3 linked regions of the Homo sapiens genome follow. The protein of the gene in region 2 purifies or fractionates together with the protein of the main gene of each other region. This does not show direct contact. Each region holds a gene or a part of one and is shown on either strand. Other genes may lie near its edges.

Region 1 (3,658 bases), on a different chromosome or scaffold from region 2:
CATCTTCCTTGCCTAAGATGCCCCTGTAGGGCATCCCCGATCTGCTCCAGCCCCATCCTCTAACGGGGAGAGGGCCAGAGCTGGCCTCTTTTTTGAAGTCTGCGGTCTGGGGTGGAGAAGGCAGTAACATAGCTCCTATCTGGCAGTGTGGTGGGACCAGCCCTCACCTTCCGCATCCGGCACAATGAGCAGAACCTGTCTTTGGCTGATGTGACCCAACAAGCAGGTAAATATCTCTGCGACCTCAATCCCAGGCTTGGCCCCAGCCCCACTCCTAAGAGGATATATCCAGGCCTGTTGCTGATGCCCCCTTGAAATGTTCCCAGCCCACATGGGCCCTGCCTGCTGCTTGGCAGAGCAAGACAGAGGATGGAGACCACATGGGGCTGGAGCAAGCCTGACCTTTGTCCTCCCTGCAGGGCTGGTGAAGTCTGAACTGGAAGCACAGACAGGGCTCCAAATCTTGCAGACAGGAGTGGGACAGGTATGCGCTAACTGGAGAATCAGTCCAAGTCCCCAGAGGGCTGATGTTGTCCGCAAGAGCTGGAGGCAAACCAGAGGGGAGAACTGGAGCCGAAACGTGTCCGTAGGCACGGCTGGCTGGAGGCGGCCTTCGCCCAAGCAGCCCCTCCCCGCAGTTCTCTTTCTCACCAGCAGATGGCGTAGGTGTCCCCTCCCTGCAGGACCAGCCCTCTGTAGTAAAAAGGCCTGAGAACTAGTTGAGCCGCCCTTAGTCTGCTGGAGCGCAGTCTCCAAATTCCAAGGGAACACCTTGCACAGAAAGGACATTATACTCAAAATATGTTTTGTTTGTTTGTCTGAGACAGAGTTTCACTCTTGCTGTCCAGGCTGGAGTGCAGTGGCTCGATCTCGGCTCACTGCAACCTCCACCTGCCAGGTTCAAGCGATTCTCCTGCCTCAGCCTCCCAAGTAGCTGGGATTACAGGTGCCTGCCACCACACCCGGCTAAATTTTTTTTTGTATTTTTAGTAGAGATGGGGTTTCACCATGTTGGCCAGGCTGGTCTCGAACTCCCGATCTCAGGTGATCCGCCAACCTTTGGCCCCCCAAAGTGCTGAGATTACAGGTGTGAGCCACCACGCCCGGCCTATACTCAAAATACCTTTGTCTTCTGCATCCAACACTGATGCCTCACGTTCTACAATTCAATTCCTAGGGTTCTCTGTCCGTTTTTAAATGCAAACACTCCTGGTGGGGGCCTCTGGCACTGCACTGTGGTTGAGTTGATCCGATGGGGATTGAGAAGGAGAATCTGAGCCCATCTGGCTGTACCACCATACCCCTAATCTCCCAGCTTTGCCCCAGGAGATGTCCTAACAGGGGGTGTGGCATGGGACCGGGGTGAGGAGCAGCTCTGAAACCTCCCTATGCCACTGCCTCCCTTGATTCTAGCCTTGTTCCCACAGAGGGAGGAGGCAGCTGCAGTCCTTCCCCAAACTGCGCACAGCACCTCACCCATGCGCTCAGTGCTGCTCACTCTGGTGGCCCTGGCAGGTGTGGCTGGGCTGCTGGTGGCTCTGGCTGTGGCTCTGTGTGTGCGGCAGCATGCGCGGCAGCAAGACAAGGAGCGCCTGGCAGCCCTGGGGCCTGAGGGGGCCCATGGTGACACTACCTTTGAGTACCAGGTGTGCAGCCCCAGAAGCTGATTGAGCAAAGGAAATGCAAGGGGCCTGGGAGTCTGGGTCTTGCGTGGACTAAGGGTCGGAACTGAATGGGGAGTGAGCCCTCATCCCTGGGAAGGTCCAGTGGAGGCTGGAGAAGCCCCAGTGGGAGGGAGTATGGTAGGGGCCTTTATGAACGCATGGGAATTGGGAGCATACAGTGCCTAAGGTTCTTCTTGGTGCTGTGCTTCTGGGGCTCTGGGATTCCACTCTGTCATGTCTGAGGTTGACATAAGCACCACCCAAGCAAAACAGCCCTGGAAAGGATCAGGGCCAGGCAGAAGACCATACCCCAGAGGAGCTGAGTTCCACTGAAAATCAGTCAAGGGCAAGCCTAGGAGCCCAGAGTTGAACCCAGGGCCCTGTTGAAAAGTTTCAGGGGACTCTTGGACCTCACCTGATTCTTCCTCCACAGGACCTGTGCCGCCAGCACATGGCCACGAAGTCCTTGTTCAACCGGGCAGAGGGTCCACCGGAGCCTTCACGGGTGAGCAGTGTGTCCTCCCAGTTCAGCGACGCAGCCCAGGCCAGCCCCAGCTCCCACAGCAGCACCCCGTCCTGGTGCGAGGAGCCGGCCCAAGCCAACATGGACATCTCCACGGGACACATGATTCTGGTCAGGACAGGGCCTGGGCCCAGAGTGGGTGAAGGAATGGGATGGTGAGAGAGGCCAGGCTGGCTGTGTGGGCCAGAGCCAGACCGTGGTGCCCCCACAGGCATACATGGAGGATCACCTGCGGAACCGGGACCGCCTTGCCAAGGAGTGGCAGGCCCTCTGTGCCTACCAAGCAGAGCCAAACACCTGTGCCACCGCGCAGGGGGAGGGCAACATCAAAAAGAACCGGCATCCTGACTTCCTGCCCTGTGAGTGAACCCTGCTGGCCCACCTGGCCCAGCCCTCTCTCTGCTGCGAGGTCTGGAGGGCTTGGGGTAAGGGGTTGGGCTTCTGGCTCAGGCTGAGTGGCAGAGGTCCCGCGATGCCAATGACCAGAGGGCCATCTGGGGTGGGGTGTCGGGTCTGTGCAGATGACCATGCCCGCATAAAACTGAAGGTGGAGAGCAGCCCTTCTCGGAGCGATTACATCAACGCCAGCCCCATTGTGAGTGGCCCTGACTCCAGCCCCCACCTCTGCCCCATCATTATCCTGGCCCTATGCACTCCATTTCCCCGTGGTCACCTGCCACCCCACCAACCCCCTGGAGTGGTGGGGCCTGATATCCTAGCAAGGGGGAACTGCCAGCCTTCTCAGACCCTGACCCACTTGCTCTGACCACGCCTGTCCATAGTGGCATTTCCCACACTGGCTCATGGTGTATCTTCCCTGCCTCCAGATTGAGCATGACCCTCGGATGCCAGCCTACATAGCCACGCAGGGCCCGCTGTCCCATACCATCGCAGACTTCTGGCAGGTGGGCTCTTAAAGGGAGGGCTTCGCTGGGGTCCTTGTGGCCACGAGGTCCCAGGGAGGTTAGAGTGGAGCTCAACTGGGTCTCTGTCCCTAGATGGTGTGGGAGAGCGGCTGCACCGTCATCGTCATGCTGACCCCGCTGGTGGAGGATGGTGTCAAGCAGTGTGACCGCTACTGGCCAGATGAGGGTGCCTCCCTCTACCACGTATATGAGGTCAGCAGGGCCCCACAGCAAGGGGACAATGGATGTGGGAAGAGTAGATGATGGCCTTTTCGTAACGTTTTCTTCACCAAATGAGCACTCAACAGTCTTTTTAAAAAGGCTTTTATTGGCCCTGCTCATGATTCATACATATATGAATATATATAAACACATATATGCATACCCATATATTCACATATATACATGTGTGTGTCCTGTTTACAGAACATACATGTGTGTGTGTGTGTGTGTGTGTGTGTGTCCTGTCTAGAGTCAAAAAGCGTTCATAGAGACTTATGATAAAGGCACAGAGATCAAACTATAAAACCACCAAAACCGAGGTAAGAAGCTAACAGCTAAGTGTA
Region 2 (2,580 bases):
GAATTAGTCAAATCAGATCATTCTATCTGGAGTTTTTGTCAAACAACACTAATGAGTTTATTTAAAGAAAAAGACATTACCTGACAGTTGTATTGTTCTCTTCTTATGGTGGTGCTCTTGAAGGGAGGTGTCTCAAATACTTCCTCTTTTCCTTTCATTTATATTTTTAACTTTTACTTCTCTTCTTATTATACCCTTTAGGCTTTATTGGCCCTTTATAGGGACCCTACTTTGTGTACTAATTATGACAAATGCTGATATAACATCTGCTCCCAGATTTAAATTGCCTTCCAGTCTGTCAGAGTTCATCTTGAAGTCAGCTTTGCTGTAAACATCAGCCTGCCTGTTAATGCAGCCTGTGGGAGACCTGAAGCCGGAGCCCACAGGAGCTACCTGAGATGAGGCCTGTGCAGCGAGCCTTGCTCTATCATGCATTAAACTGTGAAAGAGCAGTGGCTCCATGCACAAGTCAGCAAGCTCTGCATCTCCCGTTTTCCAAATCATCTCACCCTTGATCTTCCCAGAACAATCAGTTGTGCACATGCATTGCACCGCGAGCATTGGCTGGTTGAGTGTAGTCTACGATATATACTGGTGACCCTGTTTGATGCAATTCAAGTCCCTTTAAAGTTGATATTCTCAGGGTCCCTTCCCGCAGAAAAGTGGAAGTCAGGTCTCTCTTTGCCCCTCTGATAAAAATAATTACTAAGATTAAGATCTTCACTTTTCAGCAGTTGATTTTCATAACTTCTTACCAATACCTAATTTCAATTTCAGGATCGTTTCTTGAGAGGGTACCATGAGACCAGTAAGTTAGGGATATGGAACAAGAAAAAACATCTTGAGTTGAGAATACTTGCTTTCAAGTCTTCTCTCTAGATTACTAGCCTTGCTCACCTCTCCTGGCAATAGCTTCCTTACCAGGAAATGGGTAATACCAGAAGAAGATGTGATTCCAGGCCAAGTGTAAGGATAACATAAAGTTAGGTGCCTTAGGAAACTTTTGAAGGGGATGCAAATATTTATCTTGATTTAATGGTGGTTTCACATGGGTCAGCACTCATGAAGTTATACATTTAAAGAATGTACAGTTTATCTGGCCGGGCGCAGTGGCTCACACCTGTAATCCCAATACTTTGGGAGGCCAAGGGGGGTGGATCATTTGAGGTCAGGCATTTGAGACCAGCCTGGCCAACATGGTGAAACCCCGTCTCTACTAAAAATACAAAAAAATTAGCTGGGCATGGTGGCACATGCCTGTAGTCCCAGCTACTCAGGAGGCTGAGGCAGGAGAATTGCTTGAACCCAGGAGACAGAGGTTGTGGTGAGCTGAGATCGCGCCACTGCACTGCAGCCTGGGAGACAGAGCAAGACTCCGTCTCAAAAAAAAAAAAAAAAGTACAATTTATCATGCACCAGTTTTACTTCCATTAAGTGTAAAACATTGGATGTTAGAAGATTTTTAGAAACTAAGTTATTTTACAAGTGTTGTTGTTAGTAGTCCTCATTAATATTTTGAAGGAGAATTAACAAATTCTCGTTGAGTAGAATGTCTTCTTTCAGAAGGAAATTTCAGGTTGGCAATTCATAGAGGTAGCTAAATTCTACTTTCTCTTCTCAACTGTGGCATCGTCGACATTTGGGCCAGATAATTCTTTGTCCTGTGCTTTGGCATCCCTGGCCAGCATCCACCAGGTGCACTGCCTGTGCACCCCTATGTGACACTCAAAACTGCCACCAAACACTGCTGAACACTCTATGGGGCAGAACTGCCTCTTGTTGGGAACTACTGCTCCAGGCTTAGGCCATGTTGCTTTCACAAATTTTTTGTTGTTACTCAGAGTCCAGAATTATTATGTGTAATTCCTAAGACTGTGCCAGGGTTGTTTGGGTTTTTTAAGCACACTGAGACAATAATAAAGGTTTGGGTCTAACCCCTTCCCTCCAGCCCATTTTCTGTTACAGATGAGATTTGCCTGGCCTAAAATATATTAACTATTCTTGTGTGCCCTCTTTTCCTTGAACACATCCCTCCAGCTCCCACATCTGATTTTATCCCCAGTTCCCAGAGCCTAGTCTCACATATGCTTTGCTTTCTCAGTGCCAAAAACGGCAGATAATGTTGCAACAAACATGCAGCAGGGGTCTGGAGCAAGTAATTGTAGTAAGGATTCCTTTTTGTTGATGATTATAGGACATGCAAAAAGATCTGTAAATATCAGTACTTGGAACTGACCCTCTTGTCCTCAGTATTGCTTTCCCTTTATTTTATAAGAAGGATTCAAAACAGATACTGACTGTGCAATTTTAAAATACCAGTAAGCAGCACATTTAACCTTGTACAGATGGCCGGCCTTTTTTTTTTGTTTTTTTTTTTTAATCATCTTTCTATTTAATGAGTAACTGGGAGCGGGGAGGAAATGACTTTTTTAAATAAGAGATTAACTAGTGACACTGTGGCTGAGAGGCAGATCCCCTGTGCCTGGCACCCTTGACATTTTCCTAGGCATTGTCTGCTGTAGATCTGAGACAGTGCTGCCCAGAATCAGTGCTGAGCCAAAGATATTTCTTCTGTGCATA
Region 3 (2,652 bases), on a different chromosome or scaffold from region 2:
AGCCCAAATTTTTTTTATTGTGATAAAATATGCACAGTTTAAAATTTACCATTGTAACCATTTTTTTCTTTTCTTTTTTTTTTTTTTTTTTTGAGATGGAGTTTTACTCTTGTCACCCAGGCTGGAGTGCAGTGACGTGATCTCGGCTCACTGCAAGCTCCGCCTCCCGGGTTCACGCCATTCTCCTGACTCAGCCTCCTGAGTAGCTGGGAGTACAGGCGCCCGCCACCATACCCGGCTAATTTTTATATTTTTGTAGAGATGGGGTTTCACTGTCTTGGCCAGGCTGGTCTCAAACTCCTGACCTCAAGTGATCTGCCTGCCTCAGCCTCCCAAAGTGCTGGGATGGGATTACAGGTGTGAGCCGCCGCACCTGGCCTGTAACCATTTTATTGTATCCAGTTCAGAGGCACGAGGTACATTCATGATGATCAAACATCACCCGTCTACTTACATCTTCAAGCCAAATGGGAACCCTATATCTGTTTGCATCTATTTTTAATTTATACAGATAGTATCGTGATAAAGACTTTGATGCTTTTTAAAAAACTTGGCACTGCACACACACATTTGTGAACCGTCCGAGAGCACGTTGCAACATCACGGTTTTACCTCTTAATATTTTTTTTTTTTTGAGATGGAGTCTCGCTCTTCACCCAGGCTGGAGTGCAGTGGCGCGATCTTGGTTCACTGCAAGCTCCGCCTCCCGGGTTCACGCCATTCTCCTGCCTCAGCCTCCCAAATAGCTGGGACTACAGGCGCCCGCCACCACGCCCGGCTAATTTTTTGTATTTTTAGTAGAGACGGGGTTTCACTGTGTTAGCCAGGATGGTCTCGATCTCCTGACCTCGTGATCCGCCCACCTCGGCCTCCCAAAGTGCTGGGATTACAGGCGTGAGCCACCGCGCCCGGCCTACCTCTTACTATTTCAGTGTATATTTCCTAAGATCAAAGATATTCTCTTGTATAACCATAGCACAAATACAGATTTCAGGAAATTGAATTTAGATACAATCCTTTTATCTAATACATAGACTATATTCCAATTTCATTCATTGGCACAATCATAACTTTCAAAGCAGTATTGTTCCTGGCCCAGGAGCCAGTCCGGAGTCGAGGATTGCGTTCAGCTGTTATGTTCCTGTGTGGCTGGGAAGCGGGTCTCAGACGGTTTCATCTGTAAATGTCAGTATCAGCGTCTAATAAAGATAAGCCTCTTTTTAAGCAGCCACGACACCTGATCACACCTAACCACCACTCCTGGCATTGCACATCCGTCTGGTGTTTGTGTTTCCTGTTGTCTTACCCGTGACATGGTTTTCTGTGGTTAGAATTGGGTTGAAACGAGGACTCAGACATGATCAGCTGAGCCCTCGGTCCCTCTCCTGGACACGAAGCTCCCGCCCTAGTGGGGCCCCACGGTGGGTTTTGGTGCCTGGTGCTCGCACAGTTGGCAGAGGGGGGTGGGGGCCTCATCTGGGGTTGGGAGGGGGTGGGGGGCTTTCTGAGGCTGGGCTGTTTATCTGGAGGCCGAGAGCCAGGCTGGGCACAGCCGTGGGTGCTTGTAGGCCTGGACCAGAGACTGCCTTGCAAACAGGTAATTCTTCCCACAGGTGTGGGGCTCAGAGAGGGGGAGATGGGGAGGGCACAAAAAGAGAGCCTCTTGGAGAAGGCGACTCTGAGTGGGGTCCTGGGGCCCCTGTTCGTTTCCAGGACACATCTGCCCTCAGTGGGACGGGCTCAGTCAAGGCCAGCCCAGGGGAGGCTGCTGTGGGCTCCCGCTCTGCTGCTCAGGCGAGCCCTGCTTCTCTTTATGTTTCCCGTTGTCCACAGTTTGGGCAAGATTATTGAGTGGGGTTTTTTTTAAACAATGGAAGTTGATTTTATTTGAAGTTCCATTCTGCCTTTTTTTTTTTTTTTTTTTTTTTTTTTTTGGAGACAGTCTCACTCTATCGCCAGGCTGAAGTGCAATGGCGCGATCTCAGCTCACTGCACCCTCTGCCTCCCAAGTTCAAGCGATTCTCATGCCTCAGCCTCCCGAATAGCTGGGATTACAGGCGCCCACCACCACGCCCAGCTAGTTTTTGTATTTTTAGTAGAGATGGGGTTTCACCATTTTGGCCAGGCTGGTCTCGAACTCCTGACCTCAGGTGATCCGCCCGCCTCGGCCTCCCAAAGTGCTGAGATTACAGGCGTGAACCACCGCGTCCGGCCAACACTCAGTCTTGTGGCAGCACAGCGGGCACCCTGGAGAGACTGGAGCAGGGTGTGTGGGCTGCAGGTCTGGCTCCTGGGATCGCAGATTTCTCCTCTGGCCTCAGACCTCCCATCCAGGCACTGTGAGCTCATCAGTAAAATGTAGACTTCGTAGCACCCCCTCCACAGCCCTCCGTGAGACTCGTGGAGATTTCCTGAGCTGGGCACAGGAGGCCCAGAGTGCCCGCCACGGAGGGGGCTCCTGACCCACTGTTGTTCGTGATGTTTGTGATGTAGGCATCACACTCTGAAGGCGGTTCTAGGAAGCTCTGACGCACGGAGGCACTCTGGGCTGTCTGGGGGCCCGTGGGTTGCAGGGCGCATGTGGGCCATGGCAGGTGTGGTGTTGCTGATGCCTTTCCTGTGCCCCCAGCAATACTACATCCTGCTGATCCT

The links.
Region 1: the proteins of KIF16B (region 2) and PTPRN purify together in Homo sapiens (affinity purification with mass spectrometry; one large-scale study listed by BioGRID and IntAct). This does not show direct contact.
Region 3: the proteins of KIF16B (region 2) and CPNE7 purify together in Homo sapiens (affinity purification with mass spectrometry; one large-scale study listed by BioGRID and IntAct). This does not show direct contact.

What each region holds. Positions count from the first base shown.
Region 1 is NC_000002.12:219,295,873-219,299,530, reverse strand, and holds part of PTPRN (receptor-type tyrosine-protein phosphatase-like N isoform 1 precursor), read left to right. Parts: intron 1-146; coding exon 147-226; intron 227-419; coding exon 420-484; intron 485-1,427; coding exon 1,428-1,646; intron 1,647-2,097; coding exon 2,098-2,298; intron 2,299-2,398; coding exon 2,399-2,546; intron 2,547-2,708; coding exon 2,709-2,782; intron 2,783-3,014; coding exon 3,015-3,092; intron 3,093-3,185; coding exon 3,186-3,305; intron 3,306-3,658. UniProt on the Homo sapiens protein: Plays a role in vesicle-mediated secretory processes. Required for normal accumulation of secretory vesicles in hippocampus, pituitary and pancreatic islets.
Region 2 is NC_000020.11:16,273,874-16,276,453, reverse strand, and holds part of KIF16B (kinesin-like protein KIF16B), read left to right. Parts: intron 1-2,580. UniProt on the Homo sapiens protein: Plus end-directed microtubule-dependent motor protein involved in endosome transport and receptor recycling and degradation.
Region 3 is NC_000016.10:89,592,738-89,595,389, forward strand, and holds part of CPNE7 (copine-7), read left to right. Parts: exon of another isoform or gene 1-1,227; intron 1,228-2,629; coding exon 2,630-2,652. UniProt on the Homo sapiens protein: Calcium-dependent phospholipid-binding protein that may play a role in calcium-mediated intracellular processes.